Regions from separate parts of the Homo sapiens genome. Here region 1 is linked to region 2. The links come from fine-mapping of genetic effects on gene expression. A gene starts in region 2. The other region holds a variant in brackets. All regions are shown on one strand. Distances are between the middles of the regions. Region 1 has its middle 57 kb from the start of FBLN7. Region 2 holds the start of CHCHD5 (coiled-coil-helix-coiled-coil-helix domain containing 5).

Evidence for each region. PIP is the estimated chance that this variant, and not a neighbour inherited with it, causes the effect.
Region 1: its variant is fine-mapped to the expression of CHCHD5 in tibial artery (GTEx, PIP 0.98).

Annotation. Positions count from the first base shown.
Region 1 is chr2:112,190,174-112,200,951 of GRCh38, forward strand. It overlaps a transcript of FBLN7 not described here. Among named protein-coding and RNA genes, the nearest start is that of FBLN7, 57 kb to the left of the region's middle. The variant A/G (reference allele first, on the strand shown) is at 5,792.
Region 2 is chr2:112,580,271-112,591,048 of GRCh38, forward strand. It overlaps CHCHD5 (coiled-coil-helix-coiled-coil-helix domain containing 5), which reads left to right and starts at 4,339. Exons shown (of 4, transcript NM_032309.4): 1 at 4,339-4,379; 2 at 5,704-5,844; 3 at 5,930-6,095; 4 at 8,596-8,770. The coding sequence starts at 4,378. The coding sequence ends at 8,619. LOC101927330 (a long non-coding RNA gene) reads right to left here and starts at 5,002. Exons shown (of 2, transcript XR_923204.3): 1 at 4,867-5,002; 2 at 2,717-4,243. RefSeq lists a silencer at 2,022-2,316 and enhancers at 3,548-4,747, 4,014-4,765, 4,063-4,232.

The sequences.
Region 1 (10,778 bases), 390 kb before region 2:
TCAAGTTAGATTTATTTAGGCAAGACTACTTTATTGGTGGTGACAGATGCTTCCAGTAGGAGGAGCAAAATATCTGGTTGCCTCTCTTTTCTGATGTTAGCCCCCGCAGATTGCACAGATCCATTACTTCTGTAGGGATTGCAATTAATATTCTAGTGCTATTGATTTTTTCTTTGTTTATTAGCTGACATACTTTATAAAGAGAAACACACTCTCATCAGTTATTTGGTTACCCTGAGATTTGGTTTGTATAAGAAAAGTAGGATTGATTCTTGGCTTTCCTCCCTTTATTTTTCAGTTTTCAAAATGAGATGGTTCACAGGCATCTTTCCAACATGCCCTGTGAGAGTTGTTTTCTTCTTTGAGTACATTATGAACTCATGGTTGAAACATATCTGATGTTATCATGTGTGTTATCATCTGTATTAATAGTAATTACAGCTACTGTCTTTGTTTTTGCTCAAATTGTTCTATCTTTGGTTCTTGGGAGCTGCTTCGAGGTGGCTGATTCCTTTTGACATGACCCTAGTAGTCTTTTTCATCCTGTATATTTTCTGCCCCTGCCCTGAAATCAGCTGTTTTCTCCCAGTAATCCCTGGTTCCTTCTAGTGGGGGATGGTAATTAGACATCAAGGTCTGAGTGCTCAGAGTGCTCATTGGTAGTGGTTACATCATAGTTTCTTGGCTTTAGTGGCTAGAGCTAGGAAATATGTATTATTAGTATTTTTTAAGATAAAACACTACATGAGTTCATGCTGATACTTCCAATTTAATTCAGGACTACTGTGGGTTTTTTGTTAGTTAGAGGGGAGAACTGGCATAGGGACAGGGTCTCTCTGTGTCACTCAGAGTAGACTGCAATGGTACAACCATAGCTCACTGCAACCTCAAATTCCTGGGCTCAAGCGATCCTTCCACCTCAGCCTCTGAGTAGCTGGGACTACAGGTCCATGCCATTATGCCCAGCAAATTTTTATTTTTTTGTAGTGTTTTCGTTTTATTTTATTTTATTTTATTTTTGAGACAGAGTCCAGCTCTGTTGCCCAGGCTGGAGTGCAGTGGTGCAATCTTGGCTCACTGCAACCTCCACCTCCTGGGTTCAAGTGATTCTCATGCCTCAGCCTCCTGAGTAGCTGGGATTACAGGCATGCACCACCACACCTAGCTAATTTTTGTATTTTCAGTAGAGACAGGGTTTTGCCACGTTGGCCAAGCTGGTCTCAAACTCCTGTCCTCAAGTGGTCTGCCCGCCTCGGCCTCCCAAAGTGCTGGGATTACAGGCATAGCCACCGCGCCTGGCCTTGTTTTCATTTTTAACATAGCTTCATTGATCCTCTATCTGCTCTCTTTCTCTCATTCTGAAAACCTCCTTCTAAACATCACCAAAATAACTACACATTAAAAAAAATTCTTATAAGAACAATGCCAACCTTAACACACAAATGTGATAACTAAAAACAGCTAAAATCATTTTTTTTCTTCAATTCTTTGTGTCCTCAGCATTTATGCGATTAGGGACAGACAGTCAACTTACTGTTGTAAAGTTACTTGGAATGGTTCCCCTCTCTGTGGCATGCTCCAAACTAGAATCAGGATTTACTGATTATACCTCCTTCATTTTCCTGAAATTTTTAGAGATTGCTTTTTAATTTTAACTTTGTTTTATAATTATGTAAACTATTTACATGGTTCCAAAGTCAAATCTACAGAACAAAATGTATTCAGAGTTTATCTTCTGACCGGTTCCCTCCACCCTATTTCCTGCTTCTCTTCTGCTGTAATCAAATTTCCCCTTTTATCCTTCCATTTAAGCAATATAAACAAATGATAAATGATAGCATGCTATTTCACACTTTCCTGGACCCTTCTATTTTGCTTAAAATATTGGCTGTCACTCCATAGAACCATATAGTATGTTTTCCATTGTAATGCTTCATTATGACAGCATACCATTGTTTATTCGACCAGTCACTCCTGATTGACATTTGGGTTGTTTCTAGCCCTTTGCTATTAAAAATATTGCAGCAATATGCATATGTCTTTTTGTATTTTTGCCTTTGTATCTTTAGGGCCAACTTTTCCTCTGTAAGAATTATGTTATTTTCCACCCCCAACAGCAATGTATGAACATTCTTGTTCCTGAATCAAAGAAGGCCCCAGTGACGCCTCCAGTTCTCACATCTGCCCCACCCACCAAACCCTCCTTTGGAAGGACAGAGAGGCCTGAGTGGAGGGGTATTCTACAGCTAGCCCACCTGCCTGACTTGGGTATCTGGGTATCAGTCAGCTGCCACCAGGAAGAGACAAGAGGCAAGCCAAATAGATCCTGGGCACTTGAGCAGTAGAAAGTTAGCTAGGATTCTGGATGGGTTTTAAAAATCACTTTTTAAGAATTATTATACCTACAACACTAGCAAACGAAAAGAAAAATAAGCCAACAATGAAATACCACTGCAGAGTCACAGTCAACTTGATGGGTTTGTTGGGAGTCTGAACATGTGCTCAAGGAGAGAGGAAGTCCCTCGAATGGGTTGCTCACTTTCCACCAACCACTGCCTCAGCTTTACCAAGCTCTCACTGCAGGGATGGAAAGATAAACTTTTATGACTCTTAGCTTGTACATATGAAAATCTCTAAGTGTTTATGAGCTGCGTGAATATTCCTGAATGTCTAGTGCGTTCCAGGCACTGTTCTACTTGCTGAAGTTACAGTGGATAAGATTGCTGAAGACACTGACTTCATGGAGCTTACATTTTGGCAAGGGGACAGAAAATAGATGTGTAAATGAAAAAACGTGTAATGTCAAAGAGGGATGAGAACTACAAAAACAAAAGCAGTGAAAGGTGTTTGTCAGTATATAGTAAATGTATGTGTAATATATGTAATTACAGTCATCCCTTGGTATCTGCAGAGGATGGGCTCCAGGACCCCCCATGGATACCAAAATCCATGGATGCTCAAGTCCCTGATAGAAAAATGGCATAGGGCTGGGTGCGGTGGGTCACACCTGTAATCCCAGCTCTTTGGGTGGCCAAGGCGAGTGGATCACCTGAGGTCAGGAGTTTGAGACCAGCCTGGCCAACATGGTGAAACTCCATCTCTACTAAAAATATAAAAATTAGCTGGGTGTGGTGGCACATGCCTGTAATCCCAAGTACTTGGAGGCTGAGGCAGGAGAATCACTTGAACTCAGGAGGTGGAGGTTGCAGTGAGCCGAGATAGCGCTGCTGCACTCCAGCCTAGGTGACAGAGCAAGACTCTGTCTCAAAAAAAACCAGAAATGGCATAGTATATGAAGAGAGCCTATGCACATTCTCTTGCATAATTTAAGTAATCTATAGATTATTTATAATATCTGATACAAAGTGAATGCTGTATAAATAGTTGCTCTACGTTTTAAAACGTATGTTATTTTTATTCCTTTTTTCTGAATATTTTTGATATGCAGTTGGTTGATTGTGCAGAACCTGTGGGTATGGAGGGCCAAATGTATATCATCCACGTCACTTGGGTGTTGCAAACACCGTAATCGTGTGCAATGACAGTTGGATCCCATATCCTAGGAGTTTGGCCTTAGGACTCAGAATCTCTCCTGAGTGTTTGAATGAGGTAGTGGTGTAAAGCTTTGGATGGCCATATTGGGCTCATGTGCACAAGGGAAAGACAACTTGTCTACAAACAGAACAATGATGCTGATGTGGGAAGAAAGGAAACAATAGAACATAGGGCTTGGAAGGATAGAATTTAATTTTGTGTTCTGCTTATTGCTGCATAAAATATCCCAACACTTAGTGGCTTAAAACAATTATTTTATTATGAATTATCATGGATTCGGTGGGCCAGTAGTTCAGAGAGAGCACAGGGGAATAGTTTCTATTTGCTCCACAATGTCTTTGCTTCCCTCAGCTGGGAAGACTCCATGCCTGGGGGCTAGGGTTACCTAAGGGTCACTCACATGTCTGCCTGGGCTGGGATGACCTAAAGACTAGGACCGATAACTGGAACATCTACCCTTGGGCTCTCCATGTGGCTTAGCACCTAGAACAGTGTGTGTAGGACACAGCAGACATTCAGGAATATTTATGCAGCTCGTAAACACTTAGAGATTTTCATATGTACAAGCTAAGAGTCACAAAAATTCATCTTTCCTTCCCTGCAGGGAGAGCTTGGTAAAGCTGAGGCAGTGGTTGGTGGAAAGTGACCCATTTGAGTCTGACTTCCTCATATCTCTCCTTGGGCACAAGTTCAGACTCCCAATAAAGCCACCTCTGAGCCAGGTGGCCTCAGAGTAGTTGGGCTTCTAACACAGTGGCTCGTGTTACTAGCATGAGTGTTCCAGGGAACAATGTGGAAGCTACGTGGCCTTTTAGGACCCAATCACATATTGTTACCTCCACCATACTCTGTTGGTCAAAGTAGTCACAAGAAGCCACTGAGTCCTGGGAGGTGGACATAGGCCAGTGAGTACTTACTAAATTGAATTGAGCTGAGAGGTTTCAAAGGATTTTAGGGCCAATTTTCAAAACGCCACTCCTGGTTTCCTGTTTGGGTTTCCAGTGCCTCATGCAACCTGGCTTCCCGTCAGTGGGTTTTATCAGATAGCCCTGTGTCCTTTCAGTCTTCCTTTGCATGCATTCTTTTGGGTGTTCTTTTCAAACAAATGATTTCTGCCTAAAATAAAACTTACCCTCTAGTTCAGAAGTAAGATCTCCACATCTGTCACAAGGGGATACTTTGAACAATGGTAGAAACAGAGTGAGAAATCCAATGTGGGTGGTGCTGCAGGTTCACCAAGGTCAGAAGTTGGGGGAAAGGGATCACTGGAAGAGTCAAGACCAATTCATGGAGAAGTTGGCACTTGATTCATGGAGAAGTTGGTTCTTATTAGAGGAAGTCTAATGAGAAACTTAGGCCACCCTTTGTCACAAAGAGGATTTCCAACAAAACACAGCATTGGCCAGACCACAGAAATATTAGCTGACTTGCAAACAAGAGACTATGATGATGAAAATTAGATTTGGGCTGATGGGATTTTCTGAATCTGACCACGTTTAATGAGAAATTAGATCGTAGCAATCTAGTTTCTTAGCTCAGGGAGCGCTTTAGATGCATTCTTTAGGGGGAAAGTGTGCTCTGTCATATACCTTGCTTACTTATGCCAGGATTCACCTCAGCCATGCGGTGGCACTTACGCAATAGCTTGCCTTCCTTTCTTATGGTTGGCTGAGTGGCCAGACATGTTTCTGCAAATAAAGATCTCTGCCTCTTTGACTCGTTTGTCCACCTGACCCAGGCAAACCTCCATCATAGGAAGAGTTCACTCCTCACCCCTTGCTGGGGCCCTGAGTGGCAAGGTAATTTACTGCTCCCATTCCTTCATTCCTGTCCAGCTCCCAGGGGGTGCCAGACCTGGGCTTGAAAGCTGTAGGAGGCAAGAACATTGCCCTCTAGGGAGTCTTTCTCATACTAATGCTGGACTTGCTGTTATGTGAGATAACGTGGTTATGATTTAAGTAGGTTTCAGATGGAGTTCTTGTTTGCAGCCGTTCTAAGCATCCCTACAGACCTGACCTGCTGGCATCCCAGCTCCACAAGAGCAGGCATCTTGTCTGCATGCTCACTGAGGCAGCTCCAGTGCCAGCCTGTCCTGTGGGCAAGGTGATGGACAAGGCACAAAACAGTTGGCATTTGTGGTAGACATTAGCAAATTTGGCCTAATACTTCCTCCTCTCCCACCTCTGGGCCCATGATAGGCTGGCACTCTGTGCCCTCGTGGGAGGGCATGTCACTG[A/G]GACCAGTGGTGGCTCAGAAATGGTGCCAGTCTCTTCCAGGCCAAGGAACTCACAGATGCTGGGACCCCCAGAGTTCTCTCTCCTCTCATATGGCCAATGGCCCCACTCAGTGTGGAGGTTGCCCTGTCAGCTCAGGTGTCTGAGTGATCACAGTGAACTGCTGATCTATGAGGCACAAAAGCATGAGCAAAAAATGGTTCTTTGTTGTTTTAAACCACAATGATTTTAAGGTTGTCTGTTGCTCCAGCATAACTATCCTGACTGACTCAGGGCAGAAAGGGAGAAAATAAAATGACAAGATCCCTCTATCATTGATGGGGAGATTATGCTGTGGACTGAGGAACAGAACACATTTGACTCTGTGCACCTGCCTTACCCTTCCCCCAAAATTAATTTCTTCTTCTTCTTCTTTTTTTTTTTTTTTTTTTTTTTTTGAGACAGGGTTTTGCTCTGTCACCCAGGCTGGAGTGCAGTGGTATATTCTCATGCCAGTGCAGTGGCATGTTCTCATGCCACTTCAGTCTCCACCTCTCAGGCTCGCACGATCCTCCCACCTCAGCCTCCCAAAGTGCTGGGATTACAGGAGTGAGCCACAGTGCCCAGCCTGATTACTTAAATTGCAAAACTCAGGCTAGAATGGCCTGTATCAAAGGTTAGAATATCCTTTCCAGCATCATGGAAGAGTCTGATCAGGGCCAGCCTTAGCTCTGTCCCAGCCTCTTGCCTGAGGAGCATAATAGGCTTTGTGTTGTAGGCTGAACTGTGTCTCTCAAAAAGATATGTTTATGTCTGTATTAGTCCGTTTTCATGCTGCTGATAAAGACATACCCAAGATTGGGTAATTTATAAAGAAAAAGAGGTCCAATGGACTCACAGTTCTGCCTGGCTGGGGAGGCCTCACAATCATAGCGGAAGGCAAAGGTGAAGCAAAGGCATGTCTTACATAGCAGCAGACAAGAGGGAACTTGTGCAGGGGAACTCCTCTTTATAAAACCATTGGATCTCCTAAGACTTATTCACTATCACAAGAACAGCATGGGGAAGACCTGCCCCCATGATTCAGTTATCTCCCACCAGGTCCCTCCCATGACACATGGGAATTGTGGGAGCTACAATTCAAGATGAGATTTGGATGGGGACACAGCCAAACCAAGTCAATGTCCTAACACCTGGTACCTATGAATGTGATGTTATTTAGTAATAATGTCTTTGCAGATGTAATTAGTTAAGATGGAATCATCATACAATGACTGGCATCCGTAAGAGAAAACACACACACACACACACACACACACACACACACACACACAGAGAGAGAGAGAGAGAGAGAGAGAGAGAGAGACAGAGAGAGAAACATGCAGAGAGAGAGAGAAAAGACAGAAGCAGAGATTGGTGTCATGCTTTCACAGCAAAGGGATGCTGAGATTGCTGGCAATCACCAAAAGCTAGGAAAAGATAAGGAAGGATCATTCCCTGCAGCCTTTGGAGGAAGTGTGGCCCTGTATATACCTTTATTTCAGACTTGTAGCCTCCAGAACTGTGAGAGAATGCCACCTGGTTTGTGGTATTTTGTTCCAGCAGCCCTAGGAAATGAACACACCTAGTATCCCAACCTCCCCTCCAAACACCAGCTGAGGGTAAATCACCTATTGCTGAAAGGGGTCATCCCCATCCTAGGGAACATAGACAGCCACCAACTGCCAACCAGTCACTTCACTTCAAGTCCACATCCTAGCTCAGCCATCCCTTTCTTTGCTAATGATCTTGGAGCAAGATGATGACTTTATTAGTGTAACTGCAGCTAAATTTAAAGCCAGAGAGGAAAGCCATTTTGCAATGAGGGCAGAGTCATACTGGGACATTCAGGGAGCTGATTTTCAAACATCGTGGACTTTTTTCTTTTTCTATTTCTGAAAAAGACATGGACTAATTTTATAACTAGTAATGACATGATTCTACTCACTTCAGCAGTAAAAAGATGAAACAAGGGGCTCAATCAGCATATTTCATAAAGAGATTCATTGACTCCAGGAACAGGAAGGGCTATGGACTCTTAATCCCCACCCTGGATTTGCCTGGAGAACAGCAAACAAAATCAAAGCCATTCTCTCCTCAGAATCTGCAGGATCAAAAACACTCCCTCCCTGAAACCTCCTCTTCCAGGCCTGCTGTCTCCCTCCTCTGTAACAATATTCCTGCAGCAGCTGATTCGGCTCTTACCCCTTTCTGTGGTCTGGATGTTTATGTCTCCCCCAACCACCTAAATTAATACATTGAAACCTCATCTCCAAGGTGATGGTGTTACCAAGTAGGGCTTTTGGGAGGTGATTAGTTTATAAAAGCGGAGCTCACATAAATGGGATTAGTGTCCTTATAAAAGAAACCCAGAGGCTGAGTGCGGTGGCTCATGCCTATAATCCCAGCACTTTGGGAGGCCAAGGTGGGCAGATTGCTTGAGGTCAGGAGTTCAAGACCAGCCCGGCCAACATGGTGAAACCCCCGTCTCTACTAAAAATACAAAAATTAGCCAGGTGTATTGGTAGACACCTGTAATCCCACTACTTGGGAGGCTGAGGGAGGAGAATCGCTTGAACCTGGGAGACAGAGGTTGCAGTGAGCCGAGATTGCAGCACTAACTCCAGCCTGGGTGACAGAGTGAGATTGTCTCAAAAAAAAAGAAAGAAAGAAAGAAAGAAAGAAAGAAACCCAGAGTGTGTCTGCTACCTTTCATCATGTGAGGACACAGTAAAAAGGCACCATTTATGGGTCATGAAACAGGTCCTCACCAGACACCAAACCTGCTGGAACCTTGATCCTGGACTTTCCAACCTCCAGAACTGTGAGAAATAAATTTTTGTTGTTTATTAGTCACCCAGCCTAAGGTAGTTTATTATAGCAACCTGAATGCACTAAGATACACCCTCAGTAAAGCCAGGGAAGCCTCCCTCCACTATAGTCTACCAGTGAGTCAGGCTAACTAATTGGAATCTCTGCTTTTATTAACTTCAGGTGACATTACAGAGCAAGTGAAGGACTATGTGGGTTCCATCTGCATGCTAATTAAAGCCAGGCTCTGCCCTAGGAACCAGGATGCATGACCCACATTTCCTTTTCCTCTTGGACAAACAGAAGGGAAAAAATTATAATCAAGATCAAAAGTGAGTCAAAAGACAAATGGACAGGAATTCCATAGAAATGCCTCCCAGGTCAAGGCGGTCCCCCTGAGAAATTGCCCAGGGTGTCTTTTCTCCTTTAGCATCCCTGCATGCAACTCTCCCTCTTTGCATGGTGACAGACAGTTGTACGGTGGGCAGAGTCATTTCCTGGTGTCCATTTCTCTCATTTCTCTCATCGTCACTTTTCCAGTGACGGAGTGAAAAATTGCTCTATTGGCAGCAAGGCTGTCAGGGAGAACTGAGAGTTGAAACAAGCCACAACTTTTCAACATTGCTGCTCTAGAGCTAACCCATAAATGGCACCCATTCAGAACATGAATGTCACAAATCATCTAAGCATAAACTCTCCTAACACCCACTCACTCACACAGCCAGACAAGAGTACTGACTCTTCCAGAAACTCTCTAGTTTACAAAATCTCACCCATCCCTTCCAGGATCATCCTATGACTTTCTCTGGTCTCAAATGCCCTGTCTGTCCCCAATTCCCTCCTGTTAAGATGTTCCTCAGTTCCTCTCTGCTATGGTTTGAATGTGCCCCCAAATGTTCATGTGTTGGAAAATTAATCCCTCTGCCCTCATGAATGAATTAGTGTTAGCTCTGCCCTCATGAATGGATTAATGGGTTAATGAGGCCTGTGTGGTCATAAATGGATTAATGTCACTATCACAGGAGTGGGTTCGTTATTGAGGGAAGGGCTTTATTATAGAAGCGAGCTCTCTCTGGCTCTCCTGCTGTTGCCCTCTCACCATGTAATGCCCTTCACCGTGGTATGATGCAGCAAGAAGGCCTCACAAGATGCCAGTTCCATGCTCTTGAACTTCCCAGCCTCCAGAACCATGAGCTAAACATTTTCTTTATAAGTTACCCAGTCTGTGGTATTCTGTTATAGCAACAGAAAACAGACAAAGACACCCCCCATATGCAACCTCTTTTGCTGCAGCAAATAGTAAACCTGACTTTGTTGACTATATGTGGGTTCCTGGTGGTCTTTGACTGAGAGACATCAACTCCCAACTCAAGCAACCAGTGCTCTCAACTGCAATCCCTGATCCACTGGAGTGTGGTGATCAGCTGTGAAGTGTGTATTAGGTAATTGGTGGCTAGTACTAATTAAGATTCTCAAGCTTGGAAATAACAAAGGAGTATGGCTTGCCCAGGAGGAACTGTGCAGAGCCATGGGGGACACCTCAGATGTTCGTGGGAATGTCACATAAGGGGTGGCATGTATGCAGCTGGCTTATGCATAGGGAATCACTAGCTACATACTTGGCCATTCTCCTTCATTTCTGCCTTTGTCTGGGGAATTCTCGAATTACCTGAGCAGAAGGACACATCACCTCCATCTATGTTGTTTCATGGATAAGGCGTAAATGGTTTTTTTTGTTTGTTTTTTGTTTTATTTTGTTTTTAGACATAGTCTCGCTCTGTCCCCCAGTCTGGAGTGCAGTCGCACAATCTCGGCTCACTGCCACCTCTGCCTCCCAGATTCAAGCTATTCTCCTGCCTCAGCCTCACAAGTGGCTGGGATTACAGGTGCACCACCACCCGGCTAATTTTTGCATTTTTAGTAGAGGTGGGGTTTCGTCATGTTGGCCAGGCTGGTCTCGAACTCCTGAGCTCAGGTGATCCACCTGCTTCAGCCTCCCAAAGTACTGGGATTACAGGCGTTACAGGTGTGAGCCACCACACCCAGCCTAAATGTTTTTTAAAATCCTATTTATTCTCTTTCACTTAAAGGTCACCATTTTTCATATTGTTGGATGGAAAAAAGCAGCACCCATTTAAATGTTTAAATGTCAATGATGAA
Region 2 (10,778 bases):
GCTTGAGCCCAGGAGTTTGAGACCAGCCTGGGCAACACAGCCAGACCCCATCTCTACTAAAAAAATTAGCCAGGCATGGTGGTGTGCACCTGTAGTCCCAGCTCCCCAGGAGGCTGAGGTGGGAGTATCGTCTAAGCCTGGGAGTCGAGGCTGCAGTGAGCCGTGATCACGCCACTGCACTCCAGCTGGAGTGACAGGGTTTAAATCAGATGGCCATACTTGTGCGGGGCTAATTTATTTTGTATTATTTCATTTTTATCTCCTTTGTTGGCTTATTAACCCTACCTCCATTTTCATTTTTTGTTGTTTCTCTTAAAATTTCTAGTGTACATCTTTAGACTTGTCACACTTTTATGTAATATTCTACCACTTCACAGGTAGTAGAACAACTTAGCAACAGCACACACTTTCCTGTCTCTTGGCCTTTGTGCTATTTTGTCATAAGAGTTATATTTACTGTATCTGGAGATCTTGATTTCATATGCCAGATTTCCATTTTCCTTCGAACTGAGAGCTTGCTTCAGTGTTTCTGAGCTTACTTAGGTGAGACCAGAGCGGCCATTAGGGCTAATTTTGCCTCACTAGACAGGCAGTATCTTTGAGTAGTTTAGCCAGTGCACAGTGATGGTCTCCACTATGGCTCCGGGGATTGCTCTGCCTGCACCTTCCTGGTAGTTCCCTTGGTTTCCAGGAGTGTGTTCACAGGCATGCTGTGCGCTACACGTGCAGGAAACCCTTTGCAGGTCTGTGCTGCGCTACTCTCTGGTACCCTGCCTTACAAACTAGCTGCCTTGGCCTCTCCAAATTCTCAACTTTGTCCCAACTCAGGGACACCCCTGGGCTATGTAGCCTAGAAACTAACTCTCCAGACATAAGCCGGGCCACTAAGGTCACTTCATTTGTCTCCTTTCTCTTGGGGACCACTGTGCTACAATGCTTGTTTCCAATGTCTGAACTCTGTTGTCTCCTATTTTGTCCAGATTTTTTAGTTGTTGATGTTTGAAGGATAAATCTACTACCTATGACATCACCACACCCGGGTAACTTTTGTACTTTTTGTAGAGACAGAATTTCGCCATGTTGCCCAGGCTGATCTCAAACTCCTGGGCTCAAGCAGTCTGGCCACCTCAGTTTCCCAAAGTGCTGAGATTTATAGGCATGAGCCACTGTACTTGGCCTATGTTTCTAACGCAGAAGCCACCACCGTATGCCACACCTGTGACTCTTTCCCATATTTGTTGTAGTAAAAGGGACTGCAGGCCAGGCGCTGTGGCTCATACCTGTAATCTCAGCACTTTGGGAGGCCGACATGGGCGGATCACGAGGTCAGGACTTTGAGACCAGCCTGGCCAATATGATGGAACCCCGTCTCTACTAAAAATACAAAAATTAGCCTGGCGTGGTGGTGCGCACCTGTAGTCCCAGCTATTTGGGAGGCTGAGGCAGAAGAATCGCTTGAACCCGGGAGGTGGAGGTTGCAGTAAGCCGAGATTGTGCCACTGCATTCCAGCCTGGGTGACAAAGCGAGATGCTGTCTCAAAAAATAAATAAAAATAAATAAATAAATAAAAGAGGCTGCAGTACATGACACACTGGCAGCACCAACTCCTGCCTGGTGGATGACATCTATCTTTAGACATCCCCACTCCAGGGTTGCTGGGGGTCCATCACCATTGTTGACACTTCTTACAGGTTATGATGTTATCATCAGTCCCAGTGCTATCAGTCAACTCTACAATCCTAGGTAGTCGTTGAATCTACAGTTGACCCTTAAACAATGCAGTAGAAAATCCACATATAACTTTTGACTCCCCCAAAACTTAACTATTAATAGCCTACTGTCGATCTGAAGTCTTACTGATGACATAGATGAACACATATTTTGTATGTTATATGCATTATATACTGTATTCTTGCAATAGTAAAGTAGAGAGAAGAAACTGTTATTAAGGAAATCGTAAGGAAGATAAAATATACTATTCATTAAGTGGAAGTGGATCATCATAAAGGCCTTCATCCTTGTCCTTTTCACATTGAGTAGGCTGAGGAGAGGAAGGGGGGTTGGTCTTGCTGTCTCAGAGTGACAGCGGCAGAAGAAAATCTGAGTATAAGTGGACCAGTACAGTTTAAATCCATGTTGTTCAAGGGTGAACTGTAAACTGTTTGATTTAATGGGCAACCCACGCACCCAAGTGGTTATAAGTGGTACTACAAAATGTATTATAAAAATACCGTAGAATTTTTTTTTTTTTTTTGAGACAGAGTCATGCTCTGTCACCCAGGCTGGAGTGCAGTGGTGTGGTCTCGGCTCACTACAACCTCCGCAGCAATTCTCGTGCCTCAACCTCCTGAGTAGCTCCAGGACTACAGGTGCCTGCCACCATCCCTGGCTAATTTTTTGTATTTTTTGTAGAGACACGGTTTCACCATGTTAGCCAGGCTGGTCTCGAACTCCTGACCTCAAGCGATTCGCCCACCTCGACCTCCCAAAGTGCTGGGATTACAGGCGTGAGCCACTGCACCCAGCTGAACACAATCTGTACCTTCCATGTACTGATTTATGTCTTTGTCTGTAACTCCTGTCCACCTAAAATGTACAAAACCAAACTGTAATTCTACTGTCTCAGGCACACTTTCTCAGGACCTCTTGAGCCTGTGTTCCCCAGGCCATGGTCACTCATATTGGCTCAAAATAAATCTCTTTAAAACATTTCAGTTTGGTTTTTCTGTTAACAGGTGGTTAATTTTTCCTAGTTCTTTAATGAGATCCCTAGAAACCGGGTTTAAGACAATTGATTTTTTTTTTTTGCTTTCTCGGTCAGATAATTTCAGAAACTCCCTCCCTGTGCACCTGTGGGCATTCCCACTTCCACACACCAACAAGACAAGGTTAGACAGATCTTCTAAGGCAGCTTCTAAGGCCTTTCAGCATGTCAAAATGCATCTTTGGGGTATCCGTTTCTGAGTACCAACAAGGGAACGGAATGGGTTAAGATTTCATTCTCTCAGTAGAGGAAAATCTAGGGATTCATTCTACATTTGAAGCCAAAAACAGTTATCTGACTCCTTCCAGAGCCTTTAAATGTTGATCCCTTCCCCTCTTCTCCCATCAAACATACACTTGGAAGTTTAAGAAGAATGGAGGGATCTCAAGGTGTAAAGTTTTCTTTCTGTGCGATGACCAGTGCTGGTCCTCGGATGTCAACTGCCAACCAGGGTAGCTCATGGTTACAACCTCCCGTACAGCTCTCACTTATCCAGAACTACTGAGGCTCCAAGCTCAGTATCAAACTGTTCACTTGCACTATGTCCTCTATGATGTCACTGTCATCATCATTTTACAGACACACTGCGACTCCAAGTGGTCGTTACTAGTTCACAATCAAGTAGCTCTCGTTCATCTTCTCGTTCATCTTCAACTCTATGATTAACTGCAAAATGTTCTGCTCATTTTGACTAGAGTCTTGAAAGATCTGCAAACGAAACGGCAGGACTGATGCTCAGTTCTCTGACCAGGGGATATCCAGTCTCTTATGTGGGGAAACTCACGCCCAGGTCTAACCTCACACTTTTAAGACAGATGAGAAGGAAGGGGGAAATGTTGCTACATTAGGAGGAATTAATTACAAAGAGAGGAAGTAACTAGCTTGATAGTCTCATGGAGTCAGGATTAAACGCCATGTCTGTCCTGGCGTACGCTAAGGGATGGGGAAACGTCTGGGTCCCAGGCTGGGTAAATGGCAGGCCCAAGCCGAATTAGTTCGGCTCTTGGTTTGACTCCCTCTTCCCTCCTGTTCCAAGCGCTCGCATGAACCTGGGTGCCAGGGGGATTATCAGCGTCTGCGCAAGGCCGATGGTGGCAGCGCGGCGTTAGGAATCAGGCCCCCTATCCCTGAGCCCAACAGCCTACCGCTACAGCACCCAACGAAAATGGGAACAACATGTTGAGACGCTGCAGCAACAGCAGGCGCTTCCCACCAGCTACAGTCGGAGATTTGGAGCGCTTGTGTCTGAGGCTCAATCCCGTCAGGTGCCGCGCAACTCAGCGGCGCATTCTCTTTGGACCCGAGGCACCACCATACTTTCCATTGCTTACTTCCGTTAAACCCCGAGCGCTGCCATGGCAAGCCGGAAATAGGGATGAAGCAATTTAGCCAGAAGAGGGCGGAAGTGGCTACTCAGGGCGCCGCCATGACGAGCCGGGCCGGAAGAAGAGGTAGGGCGCCGCCGTGACAGATTAGTCCTAAAGGGAACGGGGTTGTTAGTTCAATTGGCTACCGGAAAAAACCAGGCTGGGCTGGGCGCCGCCATGACAACCGATACCGGAAAAGGCGGGTCGTTCCCCCCGGACAGCCCTACGCCGGCAAAGGTCTCGAGATGTGAGTAGTGAGAGCGCCTACCCCATACGTGCTGCCGCTCCCCTTCTTTTACCCAGTGATCTAGACCTAGTCTAGGACCTCGGGAACTAGGACCAGCCTCCCTCCTTCTTGGAGATCTGACCCTCAGGATTCAGCGCCTTCGCTCACGAGCTCCAACCCTCCGCATGCCCAAGCCCCGCCCTCTAAGCGTTTAGGCCTCGCCCCCTCTCGCGCTGCTTAGGACTTCGGTCCAGTCACTCTTCACCCAATCTCTGCCCCCAGTACCCCAGGTCCGGCCTTCACACTGAAATCCTAAGACTACAGACTTATTTAGGGACCTCTATGACTCCTACACCCATCCTCAGAGCTCCAGGTTCCTCCCCCTTGATCACCAAACTTTACCTTTTGAACCTTCCAGATCTGCCTGGGACCCCAGTCCTCACCTATAGGGTCCACAGACTTGTTCCTAGACCACTCTGACCTTGCCCAGGATTCCCAGAGCACCAACCTCATCCAGGGCTTCCAGACTTCACGCCCCTGGGACCTTGAGTCCCGCACCAGGGCCTTAGGTTTCATCTTGAAGACTCTTTGGCTAAGACACTCTTCCCCAGGACCTGAGACCCCACCTCTTGGAGCTCTAAACCTCACTTTTAGAACCCCCAAACCCATTAAGGGCTCTCAAGCTCTCCCTGGAATTCTAGATCTTTCTTCTAAGGCCCCAAGTCTTCTGTGCATGATCCCCAGGCCTACTGGGGGATGCCTGGATTTCAAGGCCTGTCTTCTAGGACCCTGAAGGCCTACCTTACATTAATCAGACTTTGTTTTAGAACCTCCACTCTCTCCCCAGAAGCTCCCCTCCTGCTTTACAAGCCCCAGGGCTGGGCCTCACCTCTCCACTTCTTTGGCACCATCTCAGGATCCTTCAGATTCCCACATCTGCCCTGAACTCCTAGTCCTACTTCAGACCCAGACCAGAACTCCCTTTCTTTGCGGAGCACCATAGCTTATGCCTGTAATCCTAGCACTTTGGGAGGTCTAAGCAGGGGGATCGCTTGAGCCCAGGGGTTCAATACCAGCCTCGGCAACATAGCAAGACCCTGTCTCTACAAAACATAAAAAATTAGCTGGGCATGGTGGCTCATGCCTGTGGTCCCAGCTACTTAGGAGGTTGGGGCAGGAAGATCACTTGAATCCAGGAGTTGGTGGCTACAGTGAGCTATGATCGTGCCACTGCACTCCAGCCTGGGCCACAGTGAGACCCTGTCTCTAAAAAATAAAAAAAAAAAAAAGAATTCCCTTGCTTGCCTACTGCCTGGAATGATCCTCAGCCCATCCTGTCCCACAGGCAGGCGGCCCTAGAGGTCACCGCTCGCTACTGTGGCCGGGAGCTGGAGCAGTATGGCCAGTGTGTGGCGGCCAAGCCGGAATCCTGGCAGCGGGACTGTCACTACCTTAAGATGAGCATTGCCCAGTGCACATCCTCCCAGTGAGTGCGGGCAAGTATGAGACAGTGTGGGGGGTGGGCAGTGGGGTGGGAATCTCCCAGGGGCTGAACTGCCCTACCCCCACAGCCCAATCATCCGCCAGATCCGCCAGGCCTGTGCTCAGCCTTTTGAGGCCTTCGAGGAGTGTCTTCGACAGAACGAGGCAGCTGTGGGCAACTGTGCAGAGCATATGCGCCGCTTCCTGCAGTGCGCTGAGCAGGTGCAGCCGCCACGCTCACCTGCAACTGTGGAGGTAAGAGGGGCTCACCTCAGTTCATCTCTTTTCTCCATAACATCCCCTTCATCCTTCTGGTTGTTCAGGGTAAAGACTTTGGAGTCATCCTCAGCCCCACCCCATCACCACACAGGCCTTTGCCATGCATCCAGAATCCAGAACATCATCACTTCTTGCCCCATATAGCCCCTGCTTTAATCCACCACCACCCTCACCCTCCACCTCCAGGATACCTGCCCCAGCCTTCTCCCTGGTCTCCCTTCCTCCCTCTTTTCTTGCCTCCATAAAGCGGCCTGGGTGAGCATGTAAGGACTGAAATCTGGTCTCATCACACCTATGCTTAAAGCTCTCCAGTGGCTTTGTGTCACATTGAGAACAAAAGTCCAGGTCCTTGCTGGGTTCTCTGTGTTCTTCCCTAGGCTGACTTCATCTGCCTCCTGCCTCACCCTCTCTCTTCTTTCTCACTACTCCTCATCTGCAACTGCAGAGGGGCTGGGCTGGGGTGGCCAAAAAAAGGTCACTCTTTTAAATGTATCTAATATGTAAACCAGATATACAGTATATCTGTGATATGTAAGTTTCATGGTTGGGCAATTAGAACAAAAGTCTAAAATGACTCCTTGAGGAGAGGCAGTAACGGAAAAAGGTTGAAAAATGCTCTTTTAGATGTTTACTACCCTCCTCACTGGACTGTGAGCTCCAAAGGTGAAAGTCACATCTTTCCCCAGCCCCTGTGAGTACCCTCTCCTGGGGCCCTCTCTCTGCCCCTGCAGCCCTGGCTTCTCTCTTGGGCCACCTGGCCATCCTTCTCCTGGGCCCCATGCTCCATCTTGACTTTCCAGTCATTCTTGGTGATCATCCTAGACTGATCTCAGAGGAAATCTGACCATGTTCTGCTTCTACTTACAAACCTTTCCATGGTTCTCAATTCCACCAGCCCAAGTCTTAATGCCAGCACAGCCCACAGGGCCCTGTGGGATGCAGTCCCTGCGACCCGTGGTCCCACCTCTCCTCTCTTTCCCCCTTAAGCTCTATGTTCCAGCCCCAGTGAACATGCAGTTACTCAAGTGCACGTCTCCGCTGCTTTTGTCCAGCTGTTTCCCTCTGCTGGGACTGCCCTTCCTAATCCATCTCCTGGCTAATTCCTATTCCAGCTTAGACGGCACGTCTCTCAGAAAACCTCCCTGATGTCCCACCCACTTCCCGCCCCTGTCTTCAAGTTCCCAAGGTCCCTGAGCCCCTCCATCAAGGCTCACATCCTATGCCTGTGTCAAGGGAGCTCTTGGCTGAAGATTGGGGTGATGCCCTTCTTACCAGGCCCTATAGGCATTAATTGTTTCTGTAAGGCAAGGATAAGTGAATAGTTCAGACCCCTAGGGCAGAAACTACGACCCCTGAGAGCCGGAAGGAACTTAATTCTCCTCAGGAAACGTTACCTAACGATCACATACTGTTCTCAGTCAGCTGCTGGGGACATTTCTGTCTTTCAAGTTTTTTGGGCATCTGAACAGTAAAGACCCCATCCTCCTATCTTAGAGCCATTTGCTGCTTCCCTCCCTGGACCAGCAACCAGCCTCTCTCTGGTCTCCTTGTGGCCACCCCTGCCCTGACAGTCTTCTCTTCCCTGGCAGCCAAAGAAGCTTTTAAAAATGGGAATTAGGGCCGGGTGCGGTGGCACATGCCTGTAATCCCAGCACTTGGGGAGGCCGAGGTGGGTGGATCACCTGAGGTCAGGAGTTTGAGACCAGCCTGGCCAACATGGTGAAACCCCATCTCTACTAAAAATACAAATATTAGCCAGGTGTGGTGGCAGGTACCTGTAATCCCAGCTACTTGGGAGGCTGAGGCAGGAGAATTGCTTGAACCCAGGAGGCAGAGGTTGCAGTGAGCCAAGATTGCACCATTGCACTCTAGCCTGGGCGATAGAGCGAGACTCTGTCTTCCAAAAAAAAAAAAAAAAGGGAATTAGGTCACATCTCCTCATCATCCCCTCCTTCCTGGGGATGGCATCCCAGTTACAGTTTTTCCTTCCTAGCTAGGGGCAGTGAGATTTGTTGTCTGGTCTACACAATAGCGAACACAAACATTCTCATCTCCTGCAGCATGGCATACAGACTTTACAGAATGTCCTGTGTTTTTGTGGCTGACAATCAAAGTGGTACATGTCCCTCCCATTCCGCACACACCTCTGCTCTTTACCCTGATTAAATTTTCTTCATCGAATTTCTTGGATGTTGACATATTTATTGTCCGTCTCTCCCTGCTTGAGTCAGAGAGTTTTGCCTGCTGGGTACACGGCAGGTGCTCAGTAAATATAGCAGAATGGCGCGTTCCCTGCCTCCCATGACACTTCACCACAGCTGACTTTTTCACATGGCTCAGGGCCAAGGTCATTGCCCAACACCCTTCTCCCTCCAGACTGTGGGCTCTGCAGGGTCTCCCTCTGTGGTGTCTACATAGGCTCCCCAGGCTGGGCACAGAGGAGGTGCTACTAGATGTTGATGTACTTTCTCCACAGGCACAGCCACTTCCTGCCTCCTGAGGACTCCTCTGACGGCAGGAAAACTGGACATGAATGACTGCCCCCACGCCCCTCCCCTGCAGAGTGGCCAGATGGAGTCCTGAGCCCTGGACATGGGCCCGGCTTTCCTGGATATCAGGACTTCCAATAAATAAAGACTCTGTATACTGGGCTTTGATTCCTGCCATCCGTACCTGAGAGGGTCCTAGGAGAGCTGGCTGGGCAGAGTCATCTGTTCCCCAGCTTCACCGGGTGTGCCAAGGAAGTGCCTGGGAAGAACAGGACTCTGCAGCTGTGCCCCAGGGTTGAGACTACCCTGCCTCCCTTGTGAACTCTGCCACACAGCCATTTCCTGACTTCTGCTGCATGTGCCTGGGGTAAAGACCCTCAATCCCTTCCACTCTAGCATTCCCCAAATTGTTATTTTTTTTTAATATATATATTTTTTATTTTATTTTTATTTTTATTTTTTTTTGAGACAGAGTCTCGCTGTCGCCCAGGTTGGAGTGCAGTGGCACGATCTCGGCTCACTGTAGGCTCCGCCCCCCGGGGTTCGTGCCATTCTCCTGCCTCAGCCTCCCTAGTAGCTGGGACTACAGGCGCCCGCCACCTCGCCTGGCTAATTTTTTTTTTTTTTTTTTTTAGTAGAGACAGGGTTTCACCGTGTTAGCCAGGATGGTCTCGATCTCCTGACCTCGTGATCTGCCCACCTCGGCCTCCCAAATTGCTGGGATTACAGGCGTGAGCCACCACGCGCAGCCTATATATATATTTTAAAGACAACGTCTTGCTCTGTTGCCCAGGCTGGAGTACAGTGGTGCGATAATAGCTTACTGCAGCCTCGAACTCCTGGGCTCCAGTGATCCTCTGCCTCAGCCTCCACAGTAGCTAGCACTACCGTAAGCACTTGACACAGTGCCTGGCTGCATTCTCCAAATCTGTTTTCAGTTTTCTGGAGGCTTGGGGGGTGATAAATAATATGCGTCTTTCCCTGCTGAATTCAGAATCAACTGGGCAACAGAGGCATTAGGCAATGGAGATGAAAATACTGGCTTTATTATTGAAAACAACCACATGGAAGGATGTATGGCTTAGAAGGCCATGTACTGGATTTCTTTTCTTTCTTTCTTCTTTTTTTTTTTTTTTTTTCAAGACGGAGTTTCACTCTTGTTGCCCAGGCTGGAGTGCAATGGCGTGATCTCGGCTCACTGCAACCTCTGCCTCCTGAGTTCAAGCAATTCTCCTGCCTCAGCCTCCTGAGTAGCTGGGATTACAGATATCCGCCACCATGCCTGGCTAATTTTTGTATTTCTAGTAGAGATGGGGTTTCACCATGTTGGTCAGGCTGGTCTCAAACTCCTGACCTCAGGTGATCTGCCCGCCTCAGCCTCCCGAAGTGCTGGGATTACAGGCACCGGCCGCCATGCCCGGCTAATTTTTGTATTTCTAGTAGAGACGGGGTTTCACCATGTTGGTCAGGCTGGTCTGTAACTCCTGACCTCAGGTGATCTGCCCACCTCAGCCTCCCAAAGTGCTGGGATTATAGGTGTGAGCCACCGCTTCTGGTCTATGCACTGGATTTCTGTTCTTAGTTTCCAGTTTTCCAGAAGCCAACTCAGAATTTGAGTGCAGATGGTAATTTGAATTTGATTCCAGAAACACTGATAGAGGAATGGAGAAGGGAGACAATAGAGAGGAAGGCAGCCAATAAAAGGTGCATTATCAAGCGAGTTACCACTCTGGGCAACTGGGACTCAGTCCCACTGGGGACCTGTGGGGGACTTTATAGAACATAACCCAGTTACCCTATCAAGGAGCAAGGGAATTGTGTTATCTACCAACTTCCCATCTGTCATTAAGGGGTATTTTCATGGGCATTGACTGGTACTTCTGGCCTGCCCTTTATAGGCCAAGTTCACTTCTGCCATCAGAAGAGGGCCGTAAGCAGAGTATAATGGGATCAAGTGAGCAGCCTTAAACCTGCGGAAGAGATGCTGAGTGGATCTGGGCAGGTACCAACAGTGGCTGCTGTGGCTTCTTCATGCTTCTCAGGAATACAGGCTCCTGCTGTTTGATACAGGCTCCCCAGTAGGGACTGGTCCTAAAGAATAGAAAGCAGACAGGCGTGTATGCAATAGAGGAGGAGACCCCAGAGTGCTGAGCTGAGCATGCCCATGGCC